Regions from separate parts of the Homo sapiens genome. Here all the other regions are linked to region 4. The links come from fine-mapping of genetic effects on gene expression. A gene starts in region 4. Each other region holds a variant in brackets. All regions are shown on one strand. Distances are between the middles of the regions. Region 1 overlaps PTPN9 (protein tyrosine phosphatase non-receptor type 9). Region 2 has its middle 15 kb from the start of GOLGA6C. Region 3 overlaps TMEM266 (transmembrane protein 266). Region 4 holds the start of COMMD4 (COMM domain containing 4).

Region 1 (8,106 bases), 210 kb after region 4:
CTCTGTCGCCCAGGCTGGAGTGCAGTGGCATGATCTCGGCTCACTGCAAGCTCCGCCTCCCAGGTTCACACCATTCTCCTGCCTCAGCCTCCCCAGTAGCTGTAACTACAGGTGCGCGCCACCATGCCTGGCTAATTTTTTGTATTTTTAGTAGAGACGGGATTTCACCGTGTTAGCCAGGATGGTCTTGATCTCCTGACCTCCTGATCCGCCTGCCTCAGCCTCTCAAAGTGCTGGGATTACAGGCGTGAGCCACTGCACCTGGCCTTTATTATTTTTTGTTTTTGAGACGGAGTCTTACTCTGTCACCTAGGTTGGAGTGCAGTAGTGCGATCTCAGCTCACTGCAACCTCCACCTCCCAGGTTCAAGCAGTTCTCCTGCCTCAGCCTCCTGAGATTGAGACCATCCTGGAACATGGTGAAACCCCGTCTCTGCTAAAAATACAAAAATTAGCTGGGAGTGGTGGCGTGCACCTGTAGTCCCAGCTACTCAGAGGCTGAGGCAGAAGAATCGCCTGAACCTAGGAGGCAGAGGTTGCAGTGAGCCGAGATGGTGCCACTGCACTCCAGCCTGGTGACAGAGCAAGATGCCATCTCAAAAATAAAATAAAATAAAATAAAATAAAATATAAATCATTAATAGGTCTACTCCCAGCAATCTGGATAAATGTATATTGGGAACTCAGAACCAACTGCTTAAAACTACATGTGGCACAGAATCTTTCACAATGAGTTTACAAACATTTTCTTCCTTTAAAAGATAACCCATATTATCAGGTCTCTTTATTCTGATATCCACATGTTGCAAGATAGAAAGTCTTTCTTGTTCATCCGTTAAGGGACTATGTGCACTTCAAACTCAAAGCCCTACAAATCTCATCAGAAAGGGTAAGGCCAAATAACCATGAAGAAAGGCCTAACACCCATCTGCCTAATGAAACCAAATAGGATGGTTCTGAAACCATGGGACTCTTCCATCTACCACATCAAGCATTATGCAAGAACCCAAGAAGAAAAAAAGCTAACTGCTATTAAAGGATTAATATCCCACTGGGAACGGATCAACAGGAAACCAGGGTTGACCAAGTGAAGTTTCCCATCTGAGTCCAAAGCTTCAGGCAACACTGAGGGGCCAGAGTTAACTGAACTGTTAAACACGAAAAGCTCCTCAGTGTTAATGACTTCCTACCAGCAGAAGTGAAGGGCTAAGGTTTATCAGCACTCCACCAGCCAAGTGTGACAGCCCCAGATCAGGAATAGTTTGTCTCCAATACCTGATGAGCAGAAAATGTTCTATTCCTTTTCAAATGCTATTTCTGTCTCCTTTGGCTCATGGTTCCTTTGTACACATAAGACAGCATTAGTCACATATTAAAGAAGGCAATTCAATCCCTTCATTTTTTTTTTGGCTTTTTTTTTTTAATTATACTTTTAAGTTTTCGGGTACATGTGCACAATGTGCAGGTTTGTTACATATGTATACATGTGCCATGTTGATGTGCTGCACCCATTAACTCGTCATTTAGCATTAGGTATATCTCCTAATGCTATCCCTCCCCCCTCCCCCCACCCCACGACAGTCCCCGGTGTGTAATGTTCCCCTTCCTGTGTCCATGTGTTCTCACTGTTCAATTCCCACCTATGAGTGAGAACATGCAGTGTTTCGTTTTTTGTCCTTGCAATACTTTGCTGAGAATGATGTTTTCCAGTTTCATCCATGTCCCTACAAAGGACATGAACTCATCATTTTTTATGGCTGCCCTTCATTTTTCTAGAGCAAGATTTTGCCCCTCCCAGTTCACACAGACCAAAGAGCAAAGTCCTGCAAGAAATCACAGTAGTAGTAACCATGTGTGAAGCATTTAAGATATACCAGAGAAGGAACCATACTACATCATACTCAACACTGACAAGCTAGGTATTATTAACCGCATAAAGAAATCAAAGGCTCACAGAGCCGAAGCAAACTGTCCAAGGTTACTCAACCAATAAATGGCAGAGCTGAGGTTTTGAGCACTGAATCCAAGTCTTTTCAAATCCTTATAGTCTTTCCACTTCACTAAATGGGCATGAGACATACAAGACACATATCATTCATCTTATTGGGTAATATATATGTCATTTGTTTGTTGATCTATGCACAAAATTACTCTGGAAGAATAAATAAGAAACTGGTAGCATCAGCTGTCTCAGAGGAGAACTAGGTAGCTGGGAGACATGGTGAGAAGATTAATATTTTCCATATTCCTTTCTGTATCTTTTTAAGTTTAAATCGTATGACTATATTATCCACTCAAAAAAATAACAATAAAACATATTAGTTTTATATAGCCTTTAACTAAAATATACATAACAGGAATTTTTGAACATAATATTTTTGAAACTATGCCACCAAACAATAATAAGTTTGTTGGTAATCTTCATTTCAGGGCCAAAAAAATGAGTTAGGGAGCTCTACACAGGGGTAAAGGATGACAGCTGTTTCACGAACTGCTAGCCTTAGATGGGGATGCTTCAACGAGGAGTGTGCCACTCTCACTTTCCTGCTGGAGGCATTTGCCAATAGCATATTTACTAAACACAAGCTGGCATCTCTCCTCTCAGGTTTAAAAAACACTTGCCAGGCCAAAGTTATCAAAGAGGATGAAGAATTCCCAGAGACAACAGAGGAAATAGGTAAACAAGGAAAACAAGGAAGTAAACAATTCTAAATTGTCATAGGAGAAAATTCATGTTAGGAGGTTGAGAGGCAGAATATAACACAGAAGAGAAACGGAAAAAAACGAAACCTGCCGAGTAAACAAGCAGCTCCTGGCCAGGCGTGGGGGCTCACACCCATAATCCCAACACTTTGGAGGCCAAGGCAGGAGGATCGTTTGAGCCCAGGAATTTGAAACCAGCCTGGACAACACAGGGTTATCCAATCTCCACAACATATGAAAATAAATTAGCCGGGTGTGGCAGTGTACTGCTGTGGTCCTAGCAGGAGGCTGAAGGGGGAGGATCACTTGAGCCTGGGAGTCCAAGTCTACAGTGAGCTGTGATGATGCCACTGTGTTCCAGCCTGGGTGACAGAGCAGAACCTGTCTCAAAAAGCAAAACAACAACAAACAAACAAAACACACACACACAAAAACAAGAAGCTCCTCATCCACCAACAAGAGCAACATCATCTAGGTTCCCAGAGGGAGGTAACAGAGGTAGCTGGTCACACTCTCCACAAGAACCTGTAGACAGCTTGCCAACTGCCACTCATGCCGCTAAAGAGTGAGTGAACCACACAACCAGAAGAAACCTGTAAAGTCTTTCTGGGGGAAAAAAAAATTTAAAGAGCTTGGTAAACATAGAGAGTGGGAGGGGCCTTTGGTAACATTTTTTTTTTCTCTTCTTCCAACTGATAGCTTAGACTTTAGGAAAGAAAGGAGGAATGTGAATGGCTGTGAGGAAATTGAAGTTGGCTTTCCAGATCATGCTAAAACATTCTTACCCTTCCTCTACTCCCAAACCTGGCTTATTCCTATTTCTCCTTCAGGTCAGCCTAAATCCTACTTCATCCTATAAATTTCTACTGCTTTCCAGCCAAGCACTGA[C/T]CAAACAGTATTATAAAGCATGTTATTGTCTATCTGCTCCCACTAAACTGTAAGCTTGGGAAGATGCAGGGGCCAAGGGTTCTGTGCCACAACTGCATACTCAACACCAAGCATAGTGACACCATTCTGATAAGTAAATGTGTCAATGGTGATGGGCTCTTGGCCTGCTAAAAGAGTGTGGTTCAGAGAGTAGGAAGAACACATTTGAACACTTGCCAATCTGATTATGGGAACTTAAAATTTAAAATACAGGAGAGGGCCGAGCATGGTGGTTCACACTTGTAATCCCAACACTATGGGAGGCTGAGATGAGTAGAATGCTTGACCCCAGGAGTTCAAGACCAGCCTGGGCAACATAGTGAGACCCCCCCATCTCTAGAAAAGATTTAAAATAAAGTAAAACAAAACAAAACAAAATAAAATAAAGTAAGAGGACAGCAAAAAATTCCTAAATAAAACTGGGAAAGAACATCAGGAAAATAACATGAGAAGAAAAGCAATGAAAGAGGTGACTATTAAATCACAGAAGAAACTATCTGGAAATTAGATATCTTAATTCCCTGCCAATATCTTAACGTCAGACATCTATAATAGGATATACAAAATAAAATAATTTAAAATAAATTTATGGCCAGGCGCGGTGGCTCATGCCTGTAATCCCAGCACTTTGGGAGGCGGAGGCAGGTGGAATCACTTGAGATCAGGAGTTCGACATCATGACAACAGCCTGGCCAACATGGCGAAACCCCGTCTCTACTAAAAATACAAAAATTAGCTGGGTGTGGTGGCGCACGCCTGTAGTCCCAGCTACTTGGGAAGCTGAGGCACGAGAATTGCTTGAGCCAGGGATGGGAGGATGCAGTGAGCCAAGATCACATCACTGCACTCCAGCCTGGGTGACAGAGCAAGATTCTGTCTGAAAAAATAGATTAAAGTAAATTTATGGATTTTGTAAAATAAGTAAGACATGGTCTCTACCCATAAAAATCTGAGTCTGGCAGAACTGTGAACACAATACACCAACTAATGGGCAAATGGAATTCAAATCTTTATTATTTTTACTTATTTATTTTTGTCTTTTACAAACAAAAGTAAGTAATTCAGATCTCAAGAGGGGAAGTGGAATGACAGCACATCCCAAAATGATATTCCCTGGAGAAATCCACAAACCACAGTAGAAAATTTCTGAATGAGGATAAAAGAGAGTAATGGACATGATACAGCTACTGGGAGACCCCTTCAAACTTCTCAATAACAGAAAATATAGATTGTTTTCTTGACTCAGATCCCAAAATTGTCAGGGTGATAATGGTGTATAGAAATAGGGAACTTCAGCCAGGCGCAGTGCCTCACGCCTGTAATCCCAGTACTTTGGGAGGCCGAGGCGGGCAGATCACGAGGTCAGGAGTTCAAGACCAGCCTGGCTAACATGGTGAAACCCCATCTCTACTAAAAGCATAAAAAATAAGCCAGGCATGGTGGCACATGCCTGTACTCCCAGCTACTCAGGAGGCTGAGGCAGGAGAATCGCTTCAACCTGGGAGGCAGAAGTTGCAGTGAGCCGAGATCATGCCACTGCACTCTAGCCTGGGCGACAGAGCAAGACTCTGTCTCAAAAAAAAAAAAGAAATAGAGAACTTCATTAACCTTGACATTTGCTGGATATCACATTTAACTTAAAAAGGGTGGGTGGGCACAGAAAGCCTGATAAATTCTTGTGGACAGTTTCATCCTAAAATGATAAGAGAACGACTACACTGGACATTATCCAGACTAAGGAGAAATACTAGATGAAAAATTGAAAGGGTTTCAAGAAGAAAGTAACCACATAATCCTTAACAGTGTGATAGCCAACAACTAAGTGTTGTCAACAGGAGGCAGTTAAGAATGCAAGTTCTAGACAGAGCACTAGTCACCCTACATTAAAGACCCAGTTCTGCCACAGCAGAACTCTCACTCAGGCAAGTCAAAAACCACCTGTGCCAGGCCAGGCACGGTGGCTCATGCCTGTAATCCCAGCACTTTGGGAGGCCTGGGTGGGTGGATCACCTGAGGTCAGGAGTTTGAAACCAGCTGGCCAAATGGTGAAACTTTGTCTCTACTAAAAATACAAAAACATTACCAGATGTGGTGGTGTGCACCTGTAGTCCTAGCTACTAGGGAGGCTGAGGCAGGAGAATCGCTTGAACACGGGAGGCAGAGGTTGCAGTGAGCTGAGATAGCACCACTGCACTTCAGCTTGGCCGACAGAGCAAGACTCTGTCTCAAAAAAAAAAAAAAAAAAAAAAGGCCAGGCACAGTGGCTCACACCGGTAATCCCAGCACTTTGGGAGGCCAAGGCAGGTGGATCATGAGGTCAAGAGTTCAAGACCACCCTGGCCAACATGGTGAAACCCCGTCTCTACTAAAAATACATAAATTAGCCAGGCGTGGTGGCAGACAAAACAAAACAAAAAACAAAACAAGACAAAAAAAACCTCTGTGCCATACATTTTCTCATCCAAAAAAGGAAACCTGCCTATGCTGTCTCGCATGATCAAATAACTGGCTATCCTTGAAGGCATTGTGTAAAACTTAACTACACTGCATTAAGTAACACCAGACCTTAACAATAGCTAATATTTACTGGATATAGGGTTCTTTTTTTTTTTTTTTGAGACGAAGCCTCGCTCTGTCACCCAGGCTGGAGTGCAGTGACTCAATCTTGGCTCACTGCAACCTCGGCCTCCTGGGTTCAAGCAATTCTCCTGCCTCAGCCTCCTGAGTAGCTGGGATTACAGGCATGCGCCACCACACCCGGCTAATTTTTGTATTTTTAGCAGAGATGGGGTTTCACCATATTAGCCAGGCTATTGTCGAACTCCTGATCTCAAGTGATCCACTTGCCTCAGCCTCCCAAAGTGCTGGGATTACAGGTGTAAGCCACCATGCCTGGCCCCTACTGGGTACAGAGTTCTAATCACAAGTCAGAGACTAAGATTTAGATAGATTATCAAATTCTCTCAATAGCCCTTAAAGATTGATACTATTATTATCCCTATATTACAGTTGAGAAAACAGATTTCGAACTGTTAGGTAACTTGTCCAAAGTCCCAGAACAAGAAAAGTGGTAGAGCCTGAATCAGAACACAGGTTTTCTGACTCTAGAGAATCCACATTATAACCACTGTATTACAGTGCTTTCAAAATGCAGATTTAACTAAATTAAAATATCATAATATAAACTTCTTCTTTTTTTTTTTTTGAGATGGAATCTCACTCTTGTCACCCAGGCTAGAGTGCAATGGGACGATCTCGGCTCACTGCAACCTCCACCTCCCAGGTTCAAGCTATTCTCCTGCCTCAGCCTCCCAAGTAGCTGGGATTACAGGCGCCCACCACCATGCCCAGCTAATTTTTGCACTTTTAATAGAGATAGGGTTTTGCCATGTTGGCCAGGTTGGTCTTGAACTCCTGATTTCGTGATCTGCTCACCTCAGCCTCCCAAAGTGCTGGGATTACAGGCATGAACCACCACGCCCAGACTAATATCATAATATGAACTTCTAAAGAGAAGACAGATGGTGGTATTGCTTTTTTGTTTTAATTTTTGTTTTTGTTTTTTCCTTTAGAGACAAGGGGAAATTTTTTTTTTTTTTTTTTTGAGACAGAGTCTTGCTCTGTCACCCAGGCTGGAGTGCAGGGGCGCGATCTTGGCTCACTGCAAGCTCTGCCACCAGGGTTCACGCCATTCTCCTGCCTCAGCCTCCCGAGTAGCTGGGACTACAGGCGCCCGCCACCACGCCCGGCTAATTTTTTGTATTTTTAATAGAGACGGGGTTTCACCGTGTTAGCCAGAATGGTCTCGATCTCCTGACCTTGTGATCCGCCCGCCTCAGCCTCCCAAAGTACTGGGATTATAGGCATGAGCCACCACACCCAGCCAAAAATTTCAAAAAAAGAAAAATAGAAACAGGGTCTCCCTCTGTAACCAAGGCTGGAGTGCAGTGGGGCAATCATAGTCCACTGTAATTTCAAACTCCTGGGCTCAAGCAATCCTCCCATCTCAGCCTCCCAAAGTGCTGGGATTAACAGGTGTGAGCCACCACACCCAGCCAGATGCTGGTGTTTTTTAAAGAAATCCTTAAAAGTGAGATAATATGAATTATGCAATTAATTATAAATTATTCCAATTTCATTTTTTTTTCTTTGAGACAAGGTCTCACTCTGTAACTCAGGCTGGATTACAGTGGTGAGGACATGGCTCACTGCAGTCTTGACCTCCCAGGTGCAAGTGATCCTCCTGCCTCAGCCTCCTGAGTAGTTGGGACTACAGGGGTGGACCACCACACTTGGCTAATTTCTGTATTTTTTGTAGAGACGAGGTTTCACCATGTTGCCCAAGCTGGTCTCTTAACTCCTCAGTTCAAGCGATCTGCCTACCTCAGCCTCCCAAAATGCTGGGATTACAGGTGTAAGCCACCACATCTGGCTAATTTCAAATTTAAAAAGGGAACAATCTGAAGAGACTAGCACA
Region 2 (8,106 bases), 93 kb before region 4:
GTCAGGGCAGGCTTCCTCGAGGAAGAGAAGACAAGGGAGGAGAGGAGAGGGACTAGCAGAGATCACTAGTTGTCCCCAAGTAATCCTCTTATTAAAATAATTAATTGGGAGCATGACTGAGGTGGCTATAGTACTCTGAGTTCTTTTTTTTATTATTAAAAAAAATTGAAACAGGGTCTCGCTCTGTTGCCCAGGCTGGTCTTGAACTCCTGGCCTCAAGTGATCCTCCTGCCTCAGCTTTCCAAAATGCTAGGATTACAGGTATGAGCCACCATGCCTGGCCATACCCTAGGTTCTTTTGTAAGCAAACTGAAACCCCACTCATCATGAACAGCCATATCCTAGAAAACAAAATTTTACAAAATCAGAAACTGCCAACTAACCTCTATCTAGGGACTTCACCAATCAGAAACCACCAACTAACCTCTAACTAGGGACTTCACCAATCAGAAACTACCAACTAACCTCTCACTAGGGACTTCACCAATCAGAAAACACCAACTGTCCTATAGGGATTTTACCAATCAGAAACCACCAACTAACCTCTAACTAGGGACTTCACCAATCAGAAATCACCCACTAATCACTAACTAGGGACTTCACCAATCAGAAACCACCAACTGACTTCTAAGGACATTAAGGCCACTGCTCCACTTTAACCAATCAAATGTTTTCTTTGCCTTGCTTTTGTGTGCACCTTATACAAGCTTTCCCCTCGAGCTCCAAACCACTCGCTGTCTGGCACTGCCTGATTCTTGAATCACTGTCTGCTCCAACTCCTAAAATTCTAAGTGCTTAGGTCTCTCTCTCTCCCTCTCTCTCTCTCTCTCTCTCTCTCTCTCTCTCTCTCTCCCCCCCTCCCTCCCTCCCTCCCTCCCTCTCTCTCTCCCTCCCTCCCTCCCTCCCCCCCCCTCCCTCTCTCTCTCTCTCTCTCTCTCTCTCTCTCTCTCTCTCTCTTTCTTTCTTTCTTTTGAGACGGAATTTCGCTCTTGTCCCCCAGGCTGGAACGCAATGGCACGATCTTGGCTCACTGCAACCTCCACCTCCCAGGTTCAAGGGATTCTCCTGTCTCAGCCTCCCAAGTAGCTGAGATTACATGCATGTCCCACCACGCCCAGCTAATTTTTATATTTTCAGTAGAGGCGGGGTTTCGCCATGTTGGCCAGGCTGGTCTCAACTCCTGACCTCAAAGCGATCTGCCTGCCTCAGCCTCCCAAAGTGCTGGGATTATAGGCATGAGCCACTGTGCCTGGCCAGGTTTATCTTTTAACACATCCTTAATTAGTAACAGTGTTCCTGCTTTTTAACTGGGCACATGGTGCTCCAGAATAAAGACTATATTCCCCAGCCTCCCTTGTAGGTCGGTGTGCCTGTGTGACGCAGTTCTAGCCAATAGGATAAAGTGTCATGAGGCTGTAAGTGCACTAGACATCCTTGTTAAGTCACCTTACCAATTGTGAACTGCCACCTTCAGACTTGTGTTGGTGTGAGAGAGAAATAAACTTCTCTCTCATTTGAGCCACTATTATTTGGGGCTTTCTGTTCTTCCCTGTCCTCGCCTGAGTTATACATCCACGCAGGGCAGAAGTCTTGCCTGACACGCACCCCTGCCCCACCTTGGCAGCACTCAACTCAGCCAACGTAAGTAGGACTCACTCAGTGGAGGCGGAGGGCAGTCAGTGGACAGGCATTCCCTTCCAGTCAGCCTACCCTTCCAAGCCTTCTTGGCCTTTCATAATTTTCTTTACCGTTCTGCATGTCTGGAGTGAACACCTTTCACTCTAGATGAGGGTACCCCTCATTCTTCCCAGGCTCATTCCTACCTCCATGCTTTTGCTTCTGACTCAAGGAGCAGGCAGTATGAATAGACTTAACCAAGGAAAAAAATGGGAAAAGCTGTGCAATTTTTACCTTTAATAAAAACTGGCTACAAAAAAAACCCCAAAATCTGTTTGAAGGCATCAAAGAGTTAACACAATAGTGAAGAATTTCTAGACTAAGACACAGGAAGAGACAGCAATCCAGAGAGGTAACTCAGTACTCGGAGCTACTTTTCACATGCGGTTGTTCCCCACCTCTAAAAAGGCAGCTGAGAAGCTGGGCAGTACATGTTGAACAGCGTCTAGGTGCAATGGGGACAAAAGTTTGAGTCCAGGGACTGCCAAAGCCTGGGGCAGGGTATTGTGTGTAGCTCTCATAAACCCACAGACCATAAGGTGGGGACAATGAAAGGCTGTACCTTGAGAGTTAGGGTATTCTGAAAGTAAACTGAACCTCGCAGAGACTGCAGTCCAGCTTTGAGTCGCAATTCCCCCAGTTTTTTATGTTTATTTTATTATTATTATTTTTGAGACAGTCTCACTCTATTGCCCAGGCTGGAGTGTAGTGACACAATCTCAGCTCACTGCAACCTCCACCTCCCAAGTTCAAGTGATTCTCCTGCCTCAGCCTCCCAAGTAGCTGGGATTACAGTCACCTGCCACCATGCCCATCTAATTTTTTTGTATTTTTAGTAGAGATGGGGTTTCACCATATTGGCCAGGCTGGTCTCGAACTCCTGACCTCAGGTGATCCACCCGCCTTGGCCTCCCAAAGTGCTGAGATTACAGGTGTGAGCCACCGCACCCGGCCTCAATCCCCAAAATTGAATTTAAAATTTTTGGATTGCTAGTGTATTCAGGTATGTGGAATGGGAAAACAGAATTGTCTCTGGAGGAAGACAACATTATCGTAAGCCTCAAAGCATTACAAACTGATTTTTAAAAAATGTTTGGCACACAACTAAGGTAGCTAGACTCAGTAGGACACAACACAACATGAACCAAGAACTATCAGAAAGAAGCAACGATAGAAACATGCTCGGAGATTCCAGATATTGGAATCAGACACAGGCTACAAAATAACTATACTTAATATGTTCAAGGAAGTAAAATATAAGATGCAAGAGTTTAGAAAACTACAAAAAAAATAGCACCACAGGTATTTAAAAAGTAAATTCTAAATTGAAAAGTACAATAGCATTAACTTGGGGCTCAGTGGCTCATGCCTATAATCCCAATACTTTGGGAGGCCGAGGCAGGGTTACTGCTTGAGGCCCAGGAATTTGAGACCAGCTGGTGGTCTGTGCCTATAGGTCTGGCTACTCAGGAGGGTGAGGCGGGAGAATCACCTAAGCCCAGAAGTTTGAGGTTACATTGAGCTATGATCGCACCACTACACTCCATCCTGGGTGGTAGAAGAAGGCTCTCTCTTAGAAAAAGAAAGAAAGACAAAATACAATAACTAAAATTAATAATTCCATTCATGGTTTCCAGAGCCAATTAGACACAGTTGAGAGAGAATTAATGAACTGGAAGATATTGAAAGTAATGGCTGGCCAGGCGCGGTGGCTCATGCCTGTAATCCCAGCACTTTGGGAGACAGAGGTGGGCAGATCACCTGAGGTCAGGAGTTCAAGACCAGCCTGGCCAACATGGTGAAACCCCATCTCTACTAAAAATACAAAAATTAGCCAGGAGTGGTGGCACAAGCCTGTAATCACAGCTACTCAGGAAGCTGAGGCAGGAGAATTGCTCGAACCCAGGAGGTGGAGGTTGCAGTGAGCTGAGATTGTGCCACCGCACTCCAGCCTGGGCGACAGAGTGAAACTCCATCTCAA[A/AAAAAT]AAAATAAAATAAAATAAAATAAAATAAAATGGCAAAAACTGCAATTACTTTTTCACCAACCTAGTAATTCAGAAGAAAATATTCAGAATGAAACATGAAGGGACAAAAAAAATAAAACACACAGAAGAGAAAGTAAGTGATACAGAGGATACACTAGGGATCCTCTAGAGATATATTTTCATAATTTAAAAATATTTTGTCATTTAAAAAAAAAAATAGTGCTAAGATAACAGGCGTGAGCCATCACACCTGGCCCAAATATCTTTATTTTGCCTTTTTATCTGACAGATATTTTCGCTAAGAATGGAACTTGAGGCTGGCAGTTATTTTCTTTTGGTACGGTGAAGGTGTCATTCCATGGTCTTCTGGTTCCTGAGGTTTCTGTTGAGAAGTTGACTGTCAGCCTAATTATTGCTCCTTTGAAGGCAACCTGAATTTTTTCTCAGATACTTCTGGGGTTGCGGGGGGACAAAAAAGGGATCATACACTCCCAGAGTGCTGGATTACAGGGTCTCACTTTGTCACCCAGGCTGGAGTGTAGTGGTGCGATCTCAGCTCACTGCAGCCTGGATCTCCTGGGCTCAAGCAATGCTTCCACCTTAGCCCTTCAAGTAGCTGGGACTACAGGTGCACACCACCACATATTTGACTAGGCCAAATATACCTTTAATCAGCATCCCAGAAAAAAAGGAAAGAGGGGCCAGGCGCAGTGGCTCACAGAATCCCAGCACTTTGGGAGGCCAAAGCAGGCAGATCGCCTGAGCCCAGGAGTTCAATACTAGCCTGGGCAACATGGTGTAACCCCGACTCTACAAAAAATACGAAAATTAGCCAGGTGTGGTGGTGCACGCCCGTGGTCCCAGCTACTAGAGAGGCTGATCTGGGAGCATCTCTTGGGCCTGGGAGCTCTAGGCTGCAGTGAGCACTTCAGCCTGGGCAACAGAGCAAGACCCTGTCTCAAAATAAATAAATAAAGGGATAGAAAGAGATAATGAGGCAGAAGCAATATTTTAAAAAAATAATGACAGAGAATACTTTTTAAATTATGAAAAACAATAGTTCACAGATTTAAGAAGCCTCATGAACCCCAAGCAGGACAAATAAAAATAATAGTACACCTAGACACGTTATGGTAAAATTGCAGAAAGCCAAAGGCAAAAACTTTCTTTAATCTTAAAAGTATCCGAGCCAGTCATGTTGGCTCATGCCTGTAATGCCAGCACTTTGAGAGGCTGAGGTGGGTGGTTTGCTTGAGCTCAGGAGTTAAAGGCTGGCCTAGGCAACATGGTGAAACCCTGTCTCTACAAAAAATAGAAAAAATTAGTCAAGTGTGGTGGTGTATGCCTGGAGTCCCAGCTACTTGAAGTGCTGAGGTCGAAGGATTGCTTGAGACCAGGAGGTCTGGGCTGCAGTGAGCTGAGATTGCACCACTGCACTTCAGCCTGGGTGACAAAGTGAGACCCTGTAATCCAGCACTTTGGTAGTGCATGACCCCTTTTTTTGGTCCCCTACCAAAAAAGAGTATCTGAGAAAAAATTCAGATTGCCTTCAAAGGAGCAACAATTAGGCTGTCAGTCAACAGAAACCTCAGGAACCAGAAGACCATGGAATGACACCTTCACTGTACCAAAAGAAAATAACTGCCAGCCTCAAGTTCCATTCTTAGTGAAAATATCTGTCAGATAAGAAGACAAAATAAAGATATTTGGGCTAGGTGTGGTGGCTCATGCCTGTAATCCCAGCACTTTGGGAGGCTGAGGTGGGTGAATCACCTGATGTCAGGAGTTTGAGACCAGCCTGACCAATATGGTGAAACCCTATCTCTACTAAAAATACAAAAATTAGCCAGCCATGGTGGCATGTGGCTGTAGTCCCAGCTACTCGGGAGGCTGAGGCAGGAGAATCACTTGAACCTGGGAGGTGGAGGTTGCAGTGAGCTGAGATCATGCCACTGTACTCCAGCCTGGGTGACAGAGCGAGACTCCATCTCAAAAATAATAATAAAAATAAAATAAAAATTTTTTAAAAATTTTAAAAAGTAGCCCTAGAGAGTAGACTTTTAGGACAGGATCCTGGAACTCACTAATCAGGTGGCAACAGGATCCATTGTTGGTGGTAAGTGGGGTAGTGATGTGCTGGTGGGCTATAGCAATACCATCACTAGGAAACTCACCTACTGTGGATTGGGATATGGTACAGGTGGAAGGGCAGGCATTGCTGATGCAGTAGCGCTAGAACAAAGTTCTCCAAATCTGGTTCCTGGATCATCAGCAGCAGCACGGCTGCATGCTTGAGACCTGGCGCTGGAGACCGGCCTGGGCAACATAGGTAGACCCTGTCCACAAAATATTTAAAATTAGCTAGGTGTGGTGGCACATGCCTGTGGTTCCAGCTACTCAGGAGGCTGAGGTGGGAGGATTGCTTGAGCCCAGGAGGTTGAGGCTGCAGCAAGCCATGATCACACCACTCCACTCCAGCCGGGGTAACAGAGCAAGACCTCATGTCAAAAAAAAAAAAAACAAACAAACAAAAAAAAAAGAAGACAAAGAAAGGGCTGGGCACAGTGGCTCACACTTGTAACCCAACACTTCAGGAGGCCAGGGTGGGTGGACCTCTTGAGTTCAGGAGTTTGAGACCAGACTGGGCAACATGGCAAAACCCCATCTTTACCAAAAATACAAAAAATTAGCCAGGCATGGTGTTGCGCACCTGTGGTCCCAGCTATTCAAGAGGCTGAGGTGGGAAGGATTGCTTGAGCCTGGGAGGTGGAGGTTGCAGTCAGTTGAGAACATGCCACTGCACTCCAGCCTGGGTGACAGAGTGAGATCCCATCTCAAAATAAAGAAAAGAAAAGAAATGAAACAAAACGAAATGAAACAAAATGAAAAGAAAAGGGATCCTGATATCTGATATGGAGAAACTTAAGTGGATACATCTGAGAACTTTGAACCTCCAGTTTCCACTAAATGCTCTGGTCTAAAGGAAGTAGCCCCCTTTCCTTGCTAAGAGAAGGGCAGCTGCCCCTTGCCTGGAGACTAGGCAAAGAGCCTCCAACAAGGCCTTACAGCAGGATGAGGTGTGTCGTCATTGCTGCCCCACATTGACACCAGGCTATGGTCATTTCTCATCATGGCCCAAGGTCACAGGCACAATCTGCTCTGGGAGAATGATTTTTTTTTTTTTTTTTTTGCCAAAAATGCAGGAGCTGCCAAGTGCCTACTGGCAGAATCTAGGAGAGGAGGTGAAGAAGTGGACATAAGGGTGTTGGACCAGGGGGAGACTAAAGGCTGTATACATGAGAATATACTAACCTGGGGGCACTCTCAAGATTTAATGGCTTGGCAAAGACACCTGGGGCTCCAACACAGTGCTGGAGTGGCTCCTTGAAATGTGGACGGAACAGTTGCTGCAGTGAATTAGGAGGAGATTATAGAATTGCATTTGCAAAGCGTCAAAGAAGCCAGAAAGTACAGGGAGGTAGGAATGTTGGAATGGTTCATTATATGCCAGGAGATTCGGAATCCACCACTTGACTATGTGCCCTTGGAGGGCTCACAGGAACTCCCCTCTCTAGGCAAGCAAGGAAGGCACTAGTGAGAAGGGCACCTGAATCTTTGAGGGACTCAGTGGCACTATCCTTGGTAGGCCAGGATCGACAAGAGGAGATGCTGCCATGAGACCAGGCTTCGTGGTGTCAGTGGGAACGGTGGAAGGCGAGAACAGCGGATGCCAGGTGGTGGCCCTTCACCATCATCCACAAGGTGGATGTAATTAACTTAATTGGTAGGAAGGCTAGAGTGACAGCCAGGATGCCTTGACCTCCAGGGAGCTGTTGTGTTAGCTACAAACTGATGGCATTCATGCATACTGCTGCACTCCAGCCTGGGCAACACAGTGAGACGCTGTCTCAAAAACAAAACAAAACAAAAAAAGTGTTGCTATAATGGCACCAATTGTATATGAAGTTCCTGAAATTCTGACCTCCACTAATATTATTGTGTGATTAAAAAAAATTCCATACTTGAAAGCAACACACCAATAGAGGCAAGCAAACCATGTTTTGCACCAAACAACTATCAATGGTGATGGCACGTGGATCTCCCTTTCAGAACCCTGGGCTTCTCAGTACCCTAAAGGCTTTCTGCAGACAAGGTAACTATCAGAATCACATGGAGAAGACCAGAGCCTGGAAGGAAACCTGAGAATTTTTTATTTCAACCTTCTTCATTTTACACAGAGACAAAACTGAAATTCAGAAGAGTTCTGGTTTCTCAAGGCACACCACTAGTCAATAAACACACAGAGCCAGAAGCTAGATCTAGCTCAGTGTTCTTTTAAAGCTTTAAAAATTGCTCTCTGCTAGTAAAGCTTACAACCTGACAATAACATAATATATACACACACAAATACAGTTATTTCCAAAATAGATTTCGGGGTTGGGGGGGCA
Region 3 (8,106 bases), 760 kb after region 4:
TGTGACTACAGGGTCCTTGTTACCCTCAAAGCACCCTCAGCATGGCTCTTCTTCCTGCCTCCTGAACATAATCTTTCCCCAAAGTCCTGTCCTCTTTTCTTCCTCAACATCCACTGAAGTGTCTTCTAGTGGTTAGACCTATGCTAGGTGCTGATGATACCAATATGTAAAACATAAGCCTGGCTTTTAAGAGGTTGATGGCATAGCCATAGAGGAAGATGAAAATAGATGGCAATAAGACAGTGTGATGAAAAGTTATTAGCAGGGTACTCTGGGAGTGTACAGGGAGCAACTGGGCCTGAAGAAGTTAGGAAAGAAACAGTAAATAGAAAAGCATCAGCCAGGCATAGTGGCTCACACCTACAATCCTAGCACTTTAGAGGCCAAGGCAGGAGGATCCCTTGAGCCCAGGAGTTCGAGACCAACCTGGGCAACAGAGGGAGACCTTGTCTCTATTGAAAAGAAAAAAAGAAAATAAAGTGGTTGGGCCCAGTGGCTCACACCTGTAATCCCAGCACTTTGGGAGGCCAGGGTGGGTGGATCATGAGGTTAGGAGATCGAGACCATCCTGGCTAACACAGTGAAACCCCATCTCTACTAAAAAATACAAAAAATTAGCCAGGCGTGGTGGCAGGCGCCTGTAGTCCCAGCTACTCGGGAGGCTGAGGCAGGAGAATGGCATGAACCCGGGAGGCGGAGCTTGCAGTGAGCTGAGATCACGCCACTGCACTCCAGCCTGGGCTACAGAGTGAGACTCCATCTCAAAAAAGGGAAAAAAGGCGGGGCATGGTGGTTCACGCCTGTAATCCCAGCACTTTGGGAGGCCAAGGTGGGTGAATCACTTGCAGTCAGGAGTTCAAGAGCAGCCTGGCCAACATGGTGAAACCCCGTCTCTACTAAAAATACAAAAAGTAGCCAGGCATGGTGGCACATGCCTGTTACTCCAGCTATTCAGGTAGCTGAGGCATGAGAATCGCTTGAACCTAGGAGACAGAGGTTGCAGTGAGCCGAAATCGTGCCACTGCACTCCAGCCTGGGCAACAGAGCAAGACTCTGTCTCAAAAAAAAAAAAAAAAAAAAAGAGGAAAAAGAAAAGCATAGAGTCTTCAAGAGGAAGTATTACAGGTGTGAGCAGGGGCCGTGATCTTCAGAAGTTTCATTTATTTATTTATTTATTTAGAGATGGAGTCTCGCTCTGTTGCCCAGGCTGGAGTGCAGTGGCGTAATCTCGGCTCACTGCAACTGCCGCTCCGGGTTCATGCCATTCTCCTGCCTCAGCCTTTCAAGTAGCTGGATCTACAGGCGCCCGCCACCACGCCCGGCTAATTTTTTTGTATTTTTAGTAGAGACGGGGTTTCACCGTGTTAGCCAGGATGGTCTCGATCTCCTGACCTTGTGATCTGCCCGCCTCAGCCTCCCAAAGTGCTGGGATTACAGGCTTGAGCCACCGCGCCCAGCCCAGAAGTTTCTTATAGCTGAATTGTAGAATTCGTGGGGTTGAAGGGTGAGAGGGAAGGCTGGAAATGGAAATGGGGAGAGATAAATTGCAAAAGGTTGTGTATGATACTAATAAGTTTAAACATTCTGTGAGCAGGAGGGAGCTAGCTAGGGTCTTAAATAGGGCAAAGATATGGTCGTGCGTTTTTTGTTTTGGGATGATCACTAATTGAATGAAGGATGTACCGACAGGAGAGGCAAGGGCACAGGCGAGGGCAGAGGGGCAAGTTGGGAGTTGTTTCAGTAATCCAAGTGAGAAATAATGAGGATCTGAATTAGGGTAGCAGTGAGACTAGAGAAGATGATGAAACTCCAGAGACATTTCTGAGAGATTTGAGAGGATTTGGCAACTGGTTGGGGGCTGTGAAAGAGGGAAAGATTAAGGATGACTCCCATGGCTCTTAACTGGGAAGATTTGGGTGGATGGTAACTTCACAAGACAAAATAAAAACCACGAACATGGAAACAGCCTTTGGATGGAGGTAAGATAATCAGTTAAGATTTGGATAGACTAATTTTGAAATTCGTGTGTGACATTTAGTGCTTTATGTCATCAGATAGTTGGTGGCTGAAATCATAGTGCTAGATGAGCTATTTCAGAAAGCCCATTTATGAGAAAGACCGTCAGTGGGTAGAGATGGGACATCAGAGAATATCAGTATTGAAAGATTGGGAAGAGAGCCGGGCATGATGGCTCACTCCTATAGTCCCAGCACTTTGGGAGGCTGAGGTGGGTGGATTGCTTGAGGCCAGGAGTTCAAGACCAGCCTGGCCAACATGACGAAACCTTGGCTCTACTAAAAATACAAAAATTAGCCAGGCATGGTGGTGCACACCTGCAATCCCAGCTGCTCAAGAGGCTGAGGCAGGAGGATCACTTGAACTTGGGAGGTGGAGGTTGCCGTGAGCCAAGATCACACCACTGCACTCCAGGCTGGGTGACAGAGAAAGACTCTGTCTCAAAAAAAAAAAAAAAAAAAGAGAAAAAGAAAAAAGTTGGGAAAAGAATGCAGAACCTCAAAGGAAACAAAAAGAGAGGAAAAGGGCAAAGGATGCACAGTGTCCCAAGAACCAAGGGAACTGAGAGTTTTAAGAATCAGAGGGTTATCAACAGTGTCAAATTCTACAATAAATGGGTAGGGTTAAAAGTGTCCACGGGATTTGGGAGCTAAAACAATCTGAGCTCATAGAAGTAGAGAGATTAGAATTGTGACTATTAGAAGCTGGGAAGGGTGAGGAAGAGGGTAGGACAGGGAGAGGTTGTCTAACAGATACAAAATTACAGCTAGATGGATGGAATAAGTTATAGTATTCTATAGTACTGGGGGGTAAATATGGTTAACAGTAATCTATTGTATATTTTCCAAAAGCTATAAGACAGTATTTTAATATTCACAACACAAAGAAATGATATATGTTTAGGTGATGGATATGCTAATTACCCTGGTTTAATCATCACACATTGTATACATGTATCAAAATATCACTGTGTATCCTATACATATGTACAATTACATGTCAACTAAAAATAAAAGGGAAAAAAGTGTCCACTGGGTTTGGTAATTAGGAGATCCTGGCTAACATATCAAGATCATTTTTATTGGAGTGTAGTGAAAGCCATAGTGTTGAAGTGAGAGGAAAAAAATGGAGAAGGCATGATGCAGACCAAATTGCTTTCAGACATGTAGAGACTCAGAAGATTTTTCTATATAATTTTACTGAAAAAAATTACTTGAGGGTGTACTCCAGCAAAGATAAAAGGAACTCAACAAAGAGGAAGACATGGGACCTCAGAAAAAAAATGGAGCCAGGCCAGGATGACAGTTATGCAGCAGACCCACAGAGTAATGTGTCTTAAATTGACAGTTTAAGGGCCGGGAGTGGTGGCCCATGCTTGTAATCCCAGCACTTTGGGAGGCTGAGGTGGGAGGATATCTGGAGCCCAGGAGTTCGAGGCTGCAGTGAGACATAATTGCACCACTGCTCTCCAGCCTGGATGACAGAGTGAAACCCCATCTCAAACAAAACAAAACAAAAATTATCAATTAACAGAAAATTTGGGGATCTTGATGATCTTTCATAAAATGGAGAAAACATTTATTTCTGCTTCCTGTTTCTACTTTCTATAAGAAGTAGGCAATGAGAAACCTCAGAAGGATAAAGAAAAACCTATGGAGGCTGGGCGCAGTGGCTCACACCTGTAATCCCAGCACTTTGGGAAACTGAGGCGGGAGGATCACTTGAGCCCAGGAGTTCAAGACCAGCCTGGGCAACATAGTGAAACCCTATTTTGAAACAAAAAATACAAAAATTATCCTGGTGTGGTGGCACATCCCTATGATCCCAACTACCATGGTGGCTGAGGCAGGAGGATAGCTTGAACCCAGGAGGTCAAGACTGCAGTGAGCACTGATTATGCCACTGCACTACAGCCTGGCAACAGAGCAAGACCCTGTCTCAAAAG[A/AAAAAG]AAAAGAAAAGAAAAGAAAAGAAAAACCTATGGCAAAAGTCATGGATCAAATATGAAGCAGGCTAAAATATAGTATCATGTTGAGCGATATGATAGAGTATAAGAAAAAAAGAAATCTGTATACTTGAACTTTCTCTATCCAGCAACATGGATATAATGAAATAGTACTATATCCCTTTCTGTCCTGATTTAACCACACTACCTGATTCTGCAGTGAATATACTGTAATTATAGTATAAATGCTGCTTATTGGTCTTCATGTTTTAGATTCAGTTTAAGAGCAATTTCCCAAAGCATGCTAAACTTTGTATAGTTTCAGAACAGAACACAAATTATTTAAAGCTCAACATGTAACAAAATATTGGTACAGCTAATCAAAGTTGGCATGTTGAGAAGGATATTAATAATCCAATAGCTGGGCGTGGTGGCTCATGCCTGTAATCACAGCACTTTGGGAGGCCGAGGCGGGCGGATCAGCTGAGGTCAGGAGTTTGAGACCAGCCTGGCCAACATGGCGAAACCCCGTATCTACTAAAAATACAAAAATTAGCCGGGCTTGGTGGTAGGTGCCTGTAATCCCAGCTACTCTGGAGGCTGAGGCAGGAGAATTGCTTGAACCCGGGAAGCGGAAATTACAGTGAGCTGAGACTGTGCCACTGCACTTCAGCCTGGGCAACAGAGCAAGACTCCATCTCTAAATAAATAAATAAATAATATAGCTAATAGTCACTGAATCTATACTATGTTCTAGTCAGTATTCTAAGCCTTTTATGGGTTATTGAATTCATGACAATGCTATGAGTTAGGTGCTTTTTTTTTTTTTTTTTTTTTGAGACTGAGTCTCGCTCTATCACCCAGGCTGGAGTGCAGTGGCACACTCTCGACTCACTGCAACCTCTGCCTCCCAGGTTCAAGTGATTCTCCTGCCTCAGTCTCCTGAGTAGCTGGGATTACAGGCGTGCACCACCACACCCAACTAATTTTTGTATTTTTAGTAGAGACGGGGTTTCACCATATTGGTCAGGCTGGTCTCGAACTCCTGACCTCGTGATCCACCCGCCTCGGCCTCCTAAAGTGCTGGGATTACAGGCGTAAACCACCGTGCCCAGCCAGGTGCTATTTTTATTTATTTATTTATTTATTCTTTTTTTTATTATTATACTTTAAGTTCTGGGATACATGTGCAGAATGTGCAGTTTTAATTACATAGGTATACACGTGCCATGTTAATTTGCTGCACCCATCAACCTGTCACCTACATTAAGTATTTCTCCTAATGTTATCCCTCCCTCTAGCCCCCCACCCCCCAACAGGCCCTGGTGTGTGATGTTCCCCTCCCTATGTCCATGTGTTCTCATTGTTCAACTCCCACTTATGAGTGAGAACATGCGGTGTTTGATTTTCTGTTCTTGTGATAGTTTGCTGAGAATGATGGTTTCCAGCTTCATCCATGTCCCTGCAAAGGACATGAACTCATTCTTTTTTATGGCTGCATAGTATTCCATGGTGTATATGTTATTGATGGACATTTGGGTTGGTTCCAAGTCTTTGCTATTGTGAATAGTGCTGCAATAAACATACGTGTGCATGTGTCTTTATAGTAGCATGATTTATAATCCTTTGGGTATATACCCAGTAATGGGATTGCTGGGTCAAATGGTATTTCTAGTTCTAGATCCTTGAGGAATCACCACACTGTCTTCCACAATGGTTGAACTAATTTACACTCCCACCAACAGTGTAAAAAGCATTCCTGTTTCTCCACATCCTCTCCAGCATCTGTTGTTTCCTGGCTTTTTAATGATCGCCATTTTAACTGGTGGGAGATGGTATCTTATTGTGGTTTTGATTTGCATTTCTCTGATGACCAGTGATGATGAGCATTTTTTCATATGTGTGTTGGCTGCATAAATGTCTTCTTTTGAAAAGGGTCTGTTCATATCCTTTGCCCACTTTTTGATGGGGTTGCTTGTTTTTTTCTTGTAAATTTGTTTAAGTTCTTTCTGGGTTCTGTATGTTAGCCCTTTGTCAGATGCATAGATTGCAAAAATTTTCTCCCATTCTGTAGGTTGCCTGTTCACTCTGATGATAGTTTCTTTTGCTGTGCAGAAGCTCTTTAGTTTAATTTGATCCCATTTGTCAATTTTGGCTTTTGTTGCCATTGCGTTTGGTGTTTTAGACATGAAGCCTTTGCCATTGCCTATGTCCTAAATGGTATTGCCCAGGTTTTCTTCTAGGATTTTTATAGTCCTAGGTCTTATGTTTAAGTCTTTGATCCATGTTGAGTTGATTTTTCTATAAGGTGTAAGGAAGGGGTCCAGTTTCAGTTTTCTGCAGATGGCTAGCCAGTTTTCCCAACACCATTGATTAAATAGGGAATCTTTTACCCATTGCTTGTTTGTGTCAGCTTTGTCAAAGATCAGATGGTTGTAGATGTGTGGTGTTACTTCTGAGGTTGCTGTTCTGTCACATTGGTCTATGTATCTGTTTTGGTGCCAGTACCATGCCGTTTTTGTTACTGTAGCCTTGTAGTATAGTTTGAAGTCAGGTGGCATGATGCCTCCAGCTTTGTTCTTCTTGCCCAGGATTGTCCTGGCTATGCAGGCTCTTTTTTGGTTCCATATGATTTTTAATGTAGTTTTTTCCAGTTCTGTGAGGGAAGTTAGTGATAGCTTGATGGGGATAGCATTGAATCTATAAATTACTTTCAGCAGTATAGCCATTTTTACAATATTAATTCTTCCTATCCATGAGCATGGAATGTTTTTCCATTTGTTTTTGTCCTCTCTTATTTCCTTGAGCAGTGGTTTGTAGTTCTCCTTGAAGAGGTCCTTCACATCCCTTGTAAGTTGTATTCCTAGGTATTTTATTCTCTTTTAGCAATTGTGATTGGGAGTTCACTCATGACTTGGCTGTGTTTGTCTGTTATTGGTGTATAGAAATGCTTGTGATTTTTGCACACTGATTTTGTATCCTGAGACTTTGCTGAAGTTGCTTATCAGCTTAAGGAGTTTTTGGGCCAAGACAACAGGGTTTTCTAACTATACAGTCATGTCATCTGCAAACAGAGACAATTTGACTTCCTCTCTTCCTATTTGAATACCCTTTATTTCTTTCTCTTGCCTGATTGCCCTGACCAGAACTTCCAATACTATGTTGAATAGGAGTGGTGAGAGAGGGCATCCTTGTCTTGTGCCAGTTTTCAAAGGGAATGCTTCCAGTTTTTGCCCATTTGGTATTATATTGGCTGTGGGTTTGTCATAAATAGCTCTTATTATTTTGAGATACATTCCATCAATACCTAGTTTATTCAGAGTTTTTAGCATGAAGGGCTGTTGAATTTTGTCAAAGGCCTTTTCTGCATCTATTGAGATAATCATGTTGTTTTTGTCATTGGCTCCATTTATGTGATGGATTATGTGTATTGATTTGCATATGTTGAACCAGCCTTGCATCCCAGGGATGAAGCCGACTTGATCGTGGTAGATAAGCTTTTTGATGTGCTGCTGGATTCAGTTTGCCAGTATTTTATTGAGGATTTTCGCATCGATTGTCATCAGGGATATTGGCCTGAAATTTTCTTTTTTTATTGTGTCTCTGCCAGGTTTTGGTATCAGGATGATGCTGGCCTCATAAAATGAGTTAGGGAGGATTCCCTCTTTTTCTATTGATCGGAATAGTTTCAGAAGGAATGGTACCAGCTCCTCCTTGTACCTCTGGTAGAATTCGGCTGTGAATCCATCTGGTCCTGGGCTTTTCTTGGTTGGTAGGCTATTAATTACTGCCTCAATTTCAGAACTTGTTATTGGTGTATTCAGGGATTCGACTTCTTCCTGGTTTAGACTTGGGAGGGTGTATGTGTCCAGGAATTTATCCATTTCTTCTAGATTTTCTAGTTTATTTGCGTAGAGGTATTTATAGTATTCTCTGATGGTGGTAGTTTGCATTTCTGTGGGTCAGTGGTGATATCCCCTTCATCATTTTTTATTGCATCTATTTGATTCTTTCTTTTCTTCTTTATTAGTCTGGCTAGCAGACTATCTATTTTGTTGTTCTTTTCAAAACACCAGCTCCTGGATTCATTGATTTTTTGAAGGATTTTTCTTGTCTCTATCTCCTTCAGTTCTGCTCTAATCTTAGTTATT
Region 4 (8,091 bases):
CCATGTTTTATTTGTCTAGACCAGGCTTTCTCCACAGCAGCACTGTTGATGTTTAGGGCTGGACAGTTCTCTGTTCTGGAGCTGTTTGCGCCTCGCAGGATGTTTAGCAGCATCCCCAGCCTCCGCCTGCCACATGCCAGCAGCACTCCTCAGTGTGACAGCCAAAGTGATTTCAGATACTGTCAAATATCCCCAGGGCGGCAAAATCACCTCCAGTTGAGAACTGCTGACCTAAAACCCTCTGGAACAATGTTAGATCATGGTAATGATAGCGCATACTGCTCCTGACCTTAATGGGAATACCTCTAGCATCAAAGTATAGTAGTACCTGTATACTACTGTCTGGGCTGTTATTAGTACACTGTATTAGTCCATTCTCACTCCGCTATGAAGAAATACCCAAGACTGAGTAGTTTATAAAGAAAAGATGTTTAAGTTGACTCACAGTTCTGCATGGCTGGGGAGGCCTCAGGAAACTTACAATTATGGCAGAAGATACCTCTTCCCAGGGCAGCAGGAGAGAAGGAGAGCGAATCAAAGGAGAAAGCCTGTTATAAAACCATCAGATCTCGTGATAACTCATTCACCATCACGAGAACAGCATGGGAGAAACCGCCCCCATGATTCAATTATCTCCACCTGGTCCCACCCTTGACACGTGGGGATTATTGCAATTCAAGGTGAGATCTGGATGGGGACACACAGCCAAACCAGATTATATCCTTTATATTAGCATACTGTATCGAAGTATAATTTTCTTTCTTTTTTTTTCTTTGAGATAGAGTCTCGGTCTGGCTCTGGCTGGAGTGCAGTGGCACGACCTCAGCTAACTGCAACCTCCATCTCCTAGGTTCAAGCAATTCTTGTGCCTCAGCTTCCTAAGTAGCTGGAACTACAGGTGTGTGCACCCCCTAGCTAATTTTGATTTTTTTTTTTAGTAGAGACGGAGTTTCACCATGTTGGCCAGGCTGGTGTCAAACTTCTGGCCTCACGTGATCCCGCCACTTTGGCCTTCCGAAGTGCTGAGATTACAGGCATGAGCCACCGCACCCAGCCTGAAGAATAATTTTTACAATGTTAAAAGCATGACTTTCATACAAATAATGAAGGAATATGTATAAGATATTTTCTTTAATTCACAAGGGAGTTAGCAACATGGTGAAGCAAGTTCAAGGAGCTTTTTGAGAGACAGTGTCTGTAATGCTCCAGGAAGGGCATTCTGAAATGTATTCTGAGATAGAGACAAAACTTGTTAATATCCTATAGGGAGGTCAGGCATGGTGGCTCACACCTGTAATCCCAGCACTTTGGGAGGTCAAGGCAGGCGGATGACCTGAGGTCAGGAGTTCAAGACCAGCCTGGCCAACATGTTGAAACCCTGTCTCTACTAAAAATACAAAATTAGCCAGGTGCAGTGGTGGTCACCTGTAGTCCCAGCTACTCAGGAGGCTGAGGCAAGAGAATCGCTTGAACCCTGGAGGCGGAGGTTGTAGTGAGCTGAGATTGTGCCACTGCACTCCAGCCTGGGCGGCAGAATTAAATTCCGTCTCAAAAAAAAAAGGGGGGCCGAGCGCAGTGGCTCACGCCTGTAATCCCAGCACTTTGGGAGGCCGAGGCGGGCGGATCACGAGGTCAGGAGATTGAGACCATCCTGGCCAACACGGTGAAACCCCGTCTCTACTAAAAATATAAAAAAATTAGCCCGGCGTGGTGGCGGGCGCCTGTGGTCCCAGCTGCTCGGGAGGCTAAGGCAGGAGAATGGCGTGAACCCAGGAGGTGGAGGTTGCAGTGAGCCAAGATGGCGCCACTGCACTCCAGCCTGGGTGACAGAGCGAGACTCCATTTCAAAAAAAAAAAAGAAAATCATATTGGGAAATAAAACTGCCATCTTTGGGTGTTATCTTTTCCACTGGACAGAAACCCTAAGTTAACATATATACATATTCTCAAGAATATTCATAACATATTCTGTAGTATATTTCCCTACACTAGTGGTTTTCAAAGCATGGTCTCAAATGTCACCTGGGAATATAGACACGCAATGCTCAGGCCCCACCTCAGTCCTATTGAGTTAGAAACTCTGGTGTGAGGCCCAGCAGCCGGTTTCACAAGCCCTGCAGGTGATGATGATGCACTCTAATGTGTGAGAACCACGGCTCTAAATAGTCAAATCATCTTTTTTTTTTTTTTTTTTTTGAGACGGAGTCTCACACTGTTGCCCAAGCTGACTGAAATGCAGCGGTGCAATCTCGGCTCACTGCAGCCTCCACCTCCCGCGTTCAAGCGATTCTCATGCCTCAGCCTCCTGACTGGCTGGGATTACAGGCACCCACTACCACACCCTGCTAATTTTTTTTGTTTTTTTTCAGTAGAGACAGGTTTTGCCATGTTAGCCAGGCCACCGCTCTCGAACTCCTGACCTCAGGTGATCTGCCTGCCTCGGCCTCCCAAAGTGCTAGGATTACAGGCATGAGCCACCGTGCCCAGCCTTTATTTATTTATTTATTTATTTATTTATTTATTTTTATTTTATTTTATTTTTCTGAGATGGTCTCCTTCTGTTGCTCAGGATGGATGGAGTACAGTGGTGCCATCATGGTTCACTGCAGCCTCCACCTCCCAGGCTCAAGAGATCCTCTGACCTCAGCCTCTTAGGTAGCTGGGACAACACGTGTGCACCAGGACAAGCGGGTAATTTTTTGTAGAGACTGGGGTCTCCCTATGTTGCACAAGCTGGTCTAGAACTCCTGGGCTCAAGCGATCCACCGGCCTTGGCCTACCAAAGTGCTATGATTAAAGGTCTTAACATTCTTAAAAAATTTTTTTGACATGGTTTAGGATAGTCTAGTAACTTAACGTACTGTTGTTTTCAACAGGCTAGTGGTTATGATTTGTAAAAGAACTCTTCAGAAATGAGCTCAATTTTACCATGAATTGGGGACACTTTACATTTCTATTTTATAGTGCAGTTTAATTGTCATGGGCTCTGTCTTTTAAAAACCTGAAAGCCTGCAACAATAAAACCAGCTGCACCTGTTGCATGGGATAGGCATGGAATTGAGGAGAGAGCTCAAACTACAGTCAGCCCTCTGTATCCTGAGGTTCTGGATCCTTGGATTTAACCAACTGTGCATCGAAAATATTTGGAAAAAGTAAAACAATAAAAAAACACAGGTCGGGTGCAGTGGCGGGCGCCTGTAGTCCCAGCTACTCGGGAGGCTGAGGCAGGAGAATGGCGTGAACCCGGGTGGCAGAGCTGGCAGCGAGTGGAGATCGCGCCACTGCACTCCAGCCTGGGCAACAGAGCAAGACTCCGTCTCAAAAAAAAAAATTAAAAAACTTTATAACAGCTATTTACAAAGCATTTACGTTGTATTAGGTATTATAGTAATCTAGAGATGATTTAAAGTATACGGAAGGATGTGCACAGGTTATTTGCAAATACTATGCCATATTATATCAGGGACTTGAGTATCTGTGAATTTTGGTATCTCTGGGGTCCTGGAACCAACATCCTGAGGTTACCAAAGGACGACTGTATTCAATTTTGTCTCTGGTTATTAGTCTATTCTCAAATGTATTTTTCTTGTTGTTTTGTCTTTTTGTTTTTGCCTCTTCAAGTCAATGTCGGAAACTTAGTTGTTCTAGACTACCCATTAGCTCAGAGCTACCAGTAATCAGACTACCACTGCAACCTAAGCAACCGATTTTTCTTCCCCATCAGACTGGCAAAAATTAAGATAAGCATCTATTGATGTTGAAGCTGTAGGGAGTTTTCCTGAGCAAGTAATTATGACAGCCCTTTTTGCTAGGCACCTAGATGATTCATCAAAATGAAATAAAATACCCATGCACTTGAAGAAGTTATCTGGTTTATTTCCTTACCTGGGTGCTGGTTATGTGAGGTGTACAGTTGATGAAAACTTATTAAGCTTTATAATAGGTACAATTTTCTGTATGTGTAGTAGACGTCAATAGTTTTTAAAATGTCTTTTGCCACAGCCCGCAGCTGTGAATAATGCTATTCGCTTAACAGTGGAAAACGTGTCAATGACCTGAAACACCCTGGCTCCCGGGATCCTACCCCCTTAAGTTAAACAAATGAAATAACTTCCACTGTCTTTCCTAATGTCTTAATTCGGTCCTCAGTTAAACTGGCGGTTGGCGCCAGTTTTTTCCAGGGAAGGATTCTGGGAGACGGAGGAGGAGACGCCAGCATTTCGCCCCCTGCACCTCCAGCGGGCTGCGGTCCGCTCCCGGCCTCACTCGAGCAGGCCCCGCCCTCCCAGAGGCAGTTAGTCCAAGTCACGTGATCGTCGACTCAGCTGACCCTGCGGGACCGGAAAAAGAAATTCCCGGGCCCTGGCTTCTTGGCGCGATGGTGAGGCACTAGGGGCGAAGCGAGGCTTGGGCTGCTGGAGCGGGAATGAGGGGGCGCCAAGTGGCTCCGGAAACTGGGGGAGGTTGTACTGGCCTCTCCGCAAACACAGTGTGTGCGGGCGTGAGGGCTGTGAGTCTGGTAGGGAAAAGTCCACCACTCTCCCGCTCCCGAGACGGGGGCGGGGGTACGGGGCGGGTAAGACAGAGCAGGCCGGCCGGCTTAGAGTCCCGGTGCTTCCCTGGCGGAAGGAAGGGCCCCTGCCTCCCGGGGCAGGAACTAGGGCTTGTCTGGAGCTGGGAGTCCTTTCAGGTCTTCCCCATCCCCAAGAGGACCTCCCAAGGATACCCCCTTCCCCAGCCCTGCCGTGGGGCTTGTACAAGAAGGTGCTTAGAATCAGGCTCACTCTTCCACACTGTTAGGAAGCCCCTCCGCTCTTTCCAGAGCCAGAAAGTAGTAGTTTTGGGGTTGAGACTTATCCATCCATCCATCCAATCCATCCATCCGTACGTTCTAAGCGCCTGGTCTATACCATGAAGTGTGCTAGGCACTGGGAGGACTTGAGCTGCCAAGGGAAGGGGAAATCGGAGGCTTGAATTGGAGTCATAGCTAAGGCTCCAGGGGCAGAGACCTAACTGCGCCTTGTGTGTAGTGCTAAGGGGGCTTCCTAAGGATGCCATCAAACTTAAAGGCGGATGGATGGCAGGAGCTGGCTGGCTGAAGTACAGTTTGTGTACCAGGGGTAGGGAGGCAAGGGTGGGAGACGTGTGTCTTCAGACAGGGAACAGCATGTGCAGAGACTTCAGGTTAGAGAGAGTATGGCTCCCCAGGAATGGATGCATTTCCCATAGCTGGGAGAGTATCATCTGCAGGTTAGGGAAAGATGAGGCTGGACAAGTAGAGAACAAATCTTCCTGGCTCTTGGATCACCACAATCAAGATAATGAACGTATCCACTGGCCTCCATAATTTCCTTGTGTGAGGGGCTATTTTAAGAAGTATAATCAAGAAAGGCTGTTCTGGCTGGGTGCGGTGGCTCATGCCTGTAATCCTAGCACTTTGGGAGAGTGAAGAGGGTGGATCACCTGAGGTCAGGAGTTCGAGACCAGCATGGCCATGGCACTCCAGCCTGGGCAACAGAGGGAGACTCTGTCTTATTTTTTTATTTTTTAAAAAAAGAAGGGCTGGTCTGATGTGTCACTTAAAGGATAGCAAGCCACTGGCCAGGCGCCGTGGCTCACGCCTGTAATCCCAGCACTTTGGGAGGCTGAGGGGGACGGATCACTTGAGGTCAGGAGTTCAAGACCAGCCTGGCTAACATAGTGAAACTCTGTCTCTACTAAAAATACAAAATTAGCCGAGTGTGGTGGCACATGCCTGTAATCCCAGCTACTTGGGAGGCTGAGGCAGGAGAATCACTTGAACCTGGGAAGCGGAGGTTGCAGTGAGCCGAGGTCGCGCCATTGCACTCCAGCCTGGGGAACAAGAGTGAAACTGTCTCAAAAAAAAAAAAAAAAGGATAGCAAGCCACACAGAGAGTGCAGCAGGCATGGAGGCGGGAGCAAGGCTGGTGTGCCCCAGCAGCAGCAGGGAAGCTGGAGTGGCTGGAGTTGTGTGGGTATGGGGAAGAGGGGAGAGAGTTCACTCGTCTCTGTGAGGCCCAGGACTTTGTTTTATCCCATGCTGTACCCCCAGCACTTAGAGTGGGAGCTAGCACAGAGAAGGTGCTTAATTGATGTTTGCTGAGCAGATGAATGCCTGGAGTAGACCTCAGAGCAGGGTTTGGTGGCAGGGTGGGTCAGGGAGAGAGTTTACTCAACAGCCTGGTGATAGGGGAGAACAAGAGGCCAGAGGGTATCCATCTATGTCGGGGACCAGGGGTCCCTGGTGGGCAGCAGTGTGGGAGACACACGGATCCTGGCCACACCTCAGGCCTCCCTCCAGCCTGATTACCTGCCTCCCTCCCTTGCAGAGGTTCCGGTTCTGTGGTGATCTGGACTGTCCCGACTGGGTCCTGGCAGAAATCAGCACGCTGGCCAAGATGGTTGAGTGCACAGGGTCTAGTCTGGGTGGAGGAGGGGTGTTGGGGGTGGGGATTGTGGGTGTAGAGGATGGTGAGGTTTCTCTGGGGCTAGGGCCTCAGTGCTCTCAGCCTGTGCTACCATGCTTTGTGACCTTGATCAGTGGCTGGCCTGCTCTGAGCCAGTCCCCAGGAAGGAGGGGTGAGGTTTGCCAGCCTGGCTGATGTAAGGACTTCCCTTCCAGTCCTCTGTGAAGTTGCGGCTGCTCTGCAGCCAGGTACTAAAGGAGCTGCTGGGACAGGGGATTGATGTGAGTACAAGATCCAGCACCCCATTGTCCCATGACCTTATGACCACCACTGCCCTGAAACTCTGCACTAGGCCCAGGGAGACGGGTGAGCCAGCCTCTCAACCTCTCTGGGCACCTCCCTTCCTTCTTTCCAGCCTGTCTGTTCCTTATCGCAGGATCCAGGCTGGGGGTGAGGGGCTGGTGAGCAGGGGCCTGGCACCCCCTGAAGGTCTCCTTTCCCCATAGTATGAGAAGATCCTGAAGCTCACGGCTGACGCCAAGTTTGGTGAGTATCCCGCTGAGTCTATAGGCCCCAGGCAACCCTGGGAACTTGGCCTGGTGCCTGGTACAGAGGGGCCCCCCACCCCTCCCAGCAGCATCCTTAACTTACCTTCCCTAGTGGAGGAGCATGAGGGAAAGAAAGACCGACAGTCCCACCTTCCTGTCCTCTGCCAGCTCCTGGTGGAGCAGTAGCAGTGCCTGTGGCTCCAGGAGGCCTGGGGGCTTTGAGCTAAAGTTAATAGGGCAACAGGGAGGTGGCTGGACCCACAGTGACACCCCCTGCCCCACCCACGGGTCCCTCAGAGTCAGGCGATGTGAAGGCCACAGTGGCAGTGCTGAGTTTCATCCTCTCCAGTGCGGCCAAGCACAGTGTCGATGGCGAATCCTTGTCCAGTGAACTGCAGCAGCTGGGGCTGCCCAAAGGTACGGGTTGTGGGTGGGCAGCTGGGCAGCCTGTGGGCCAAGGGCTGCTAGAGAAGGGGACAGGCCCTGTGACCCTGAGGTGTACCTGCCCTGTCTGGGCCAGGAGCCCAAGCCAGGCCCCGACATGCTACCTCCAGAGCTACTCCATTCTACCCCCAGAGCACGCGGCCAGCCTGTGCCGCTGTTATGAGGAGAAGCAAAGCCCCTTGCAGAAGCACTTGCGGGTCTGCAGCCTACGCAGTAAGTATGAGGCCAGCCAGGGTCCGGGCTCATTCTAGAAGGTGCACGCAGCACACAAAGTGCATGGAGAGTCCAGGGAGACGACTTAACCACGGTCACATGGTTACTAGCAGCCGTAGAGCTGGGACCTGGCCCTGGGTCTCCTGACTCCCCACAAGGTTTCTTGTCACTGAGGTCTGCTGTGGGTGATCAGAACTGATTATCGGGCACCTGCCCTGTTCTGAGCCTGGGTCAGCAGGATGGGAGCTTCTTAGAGGCCACATAGCCTTGAATGGTTGAGAGCTGAGCCAGGGTGTCGGCTGAGGTCTACTTGGCTTGCCTGCTTTGATCCTGAGAGCCACCCACCCCATCTCACAGTGAATAGGTTGGCAGGTGTGGGCTGGCGGGTGGACTACACCCTGAGCTCCAGCCTGCTGCAATCCGTGGAAGAGCCCATGGTGCACCTGCGGCTGGAGGTG

The links.
Region 1: its variant is fine-mapped to the expression of COMMD4 in whole blood (INTERVAL, PIP above 0.99).
Region 2: its variant is fine-mapped to the expression of COMMD4 in whole blood (INTERVAL, PIP above 0.99).
Region 3: its variant is fine-mapped to the expression of COMMD4 in whole blood (INTERVAL, PIP above 0.99).

The regions. Positions count from the first base shown.
Region 1 is chr15:75,541,439-75,549,544 of GRCh38, forward strand. All of the region lies in intron 1 of PTPN9 (protein tyrosine phosphatase non-receptor type 9), which reads right to left. Among named protein-coding and RNA genes, the nearest start is that of PTPN9, 34 kb to the right of the region's middle. The variant C/T (reference allele first, on the strand shown) is at 3,591.
Region 2 is chr15:75,239,172-75,247,277 of GRCh38, forward strand. No RefSeq gene overlaps it. Among named protein-coding and RNA genes, the nearest start is that of GOLGA6C, 15 kb to the right of the region's middle. The variant A/AAAAAT (reference allele first, on the strand shown) is at 3,659.
Region 3 is chr15:76,088,034-76,096,139 of GRCh38, forward strand. The region is part of intron 1 of TMEM266 (transmembrane protein 266); the gene reads left to right. Among named protein-coding and RNA genes, the nearest start is that of TMEM266, 32 kb to the left of the region's middle. The variant A/AAAAAG (reference allele first, on the strand shown) is at 3,962.
Region 4 is chr15:75,331,712-75,339,802 of GRCh38, forward strand. It overlaps COMMD4 (COMM domain containing 4), which reads left to right and starts at 4,352. Exons shown (of 8, transcript NM_017828.5): 1 at 4,352-4,381; 2 at 6,351-6,422; 3 at 6,644-6,709; 4 at 6,935-6,974; 5 at 7,274-7,393; 6 at 7,553-7,633; 7 at 7,991-8,091. The coding sequence starts at 4,379. RefSeq lists enhancers at 4,186-4,235, 4,576-4,745.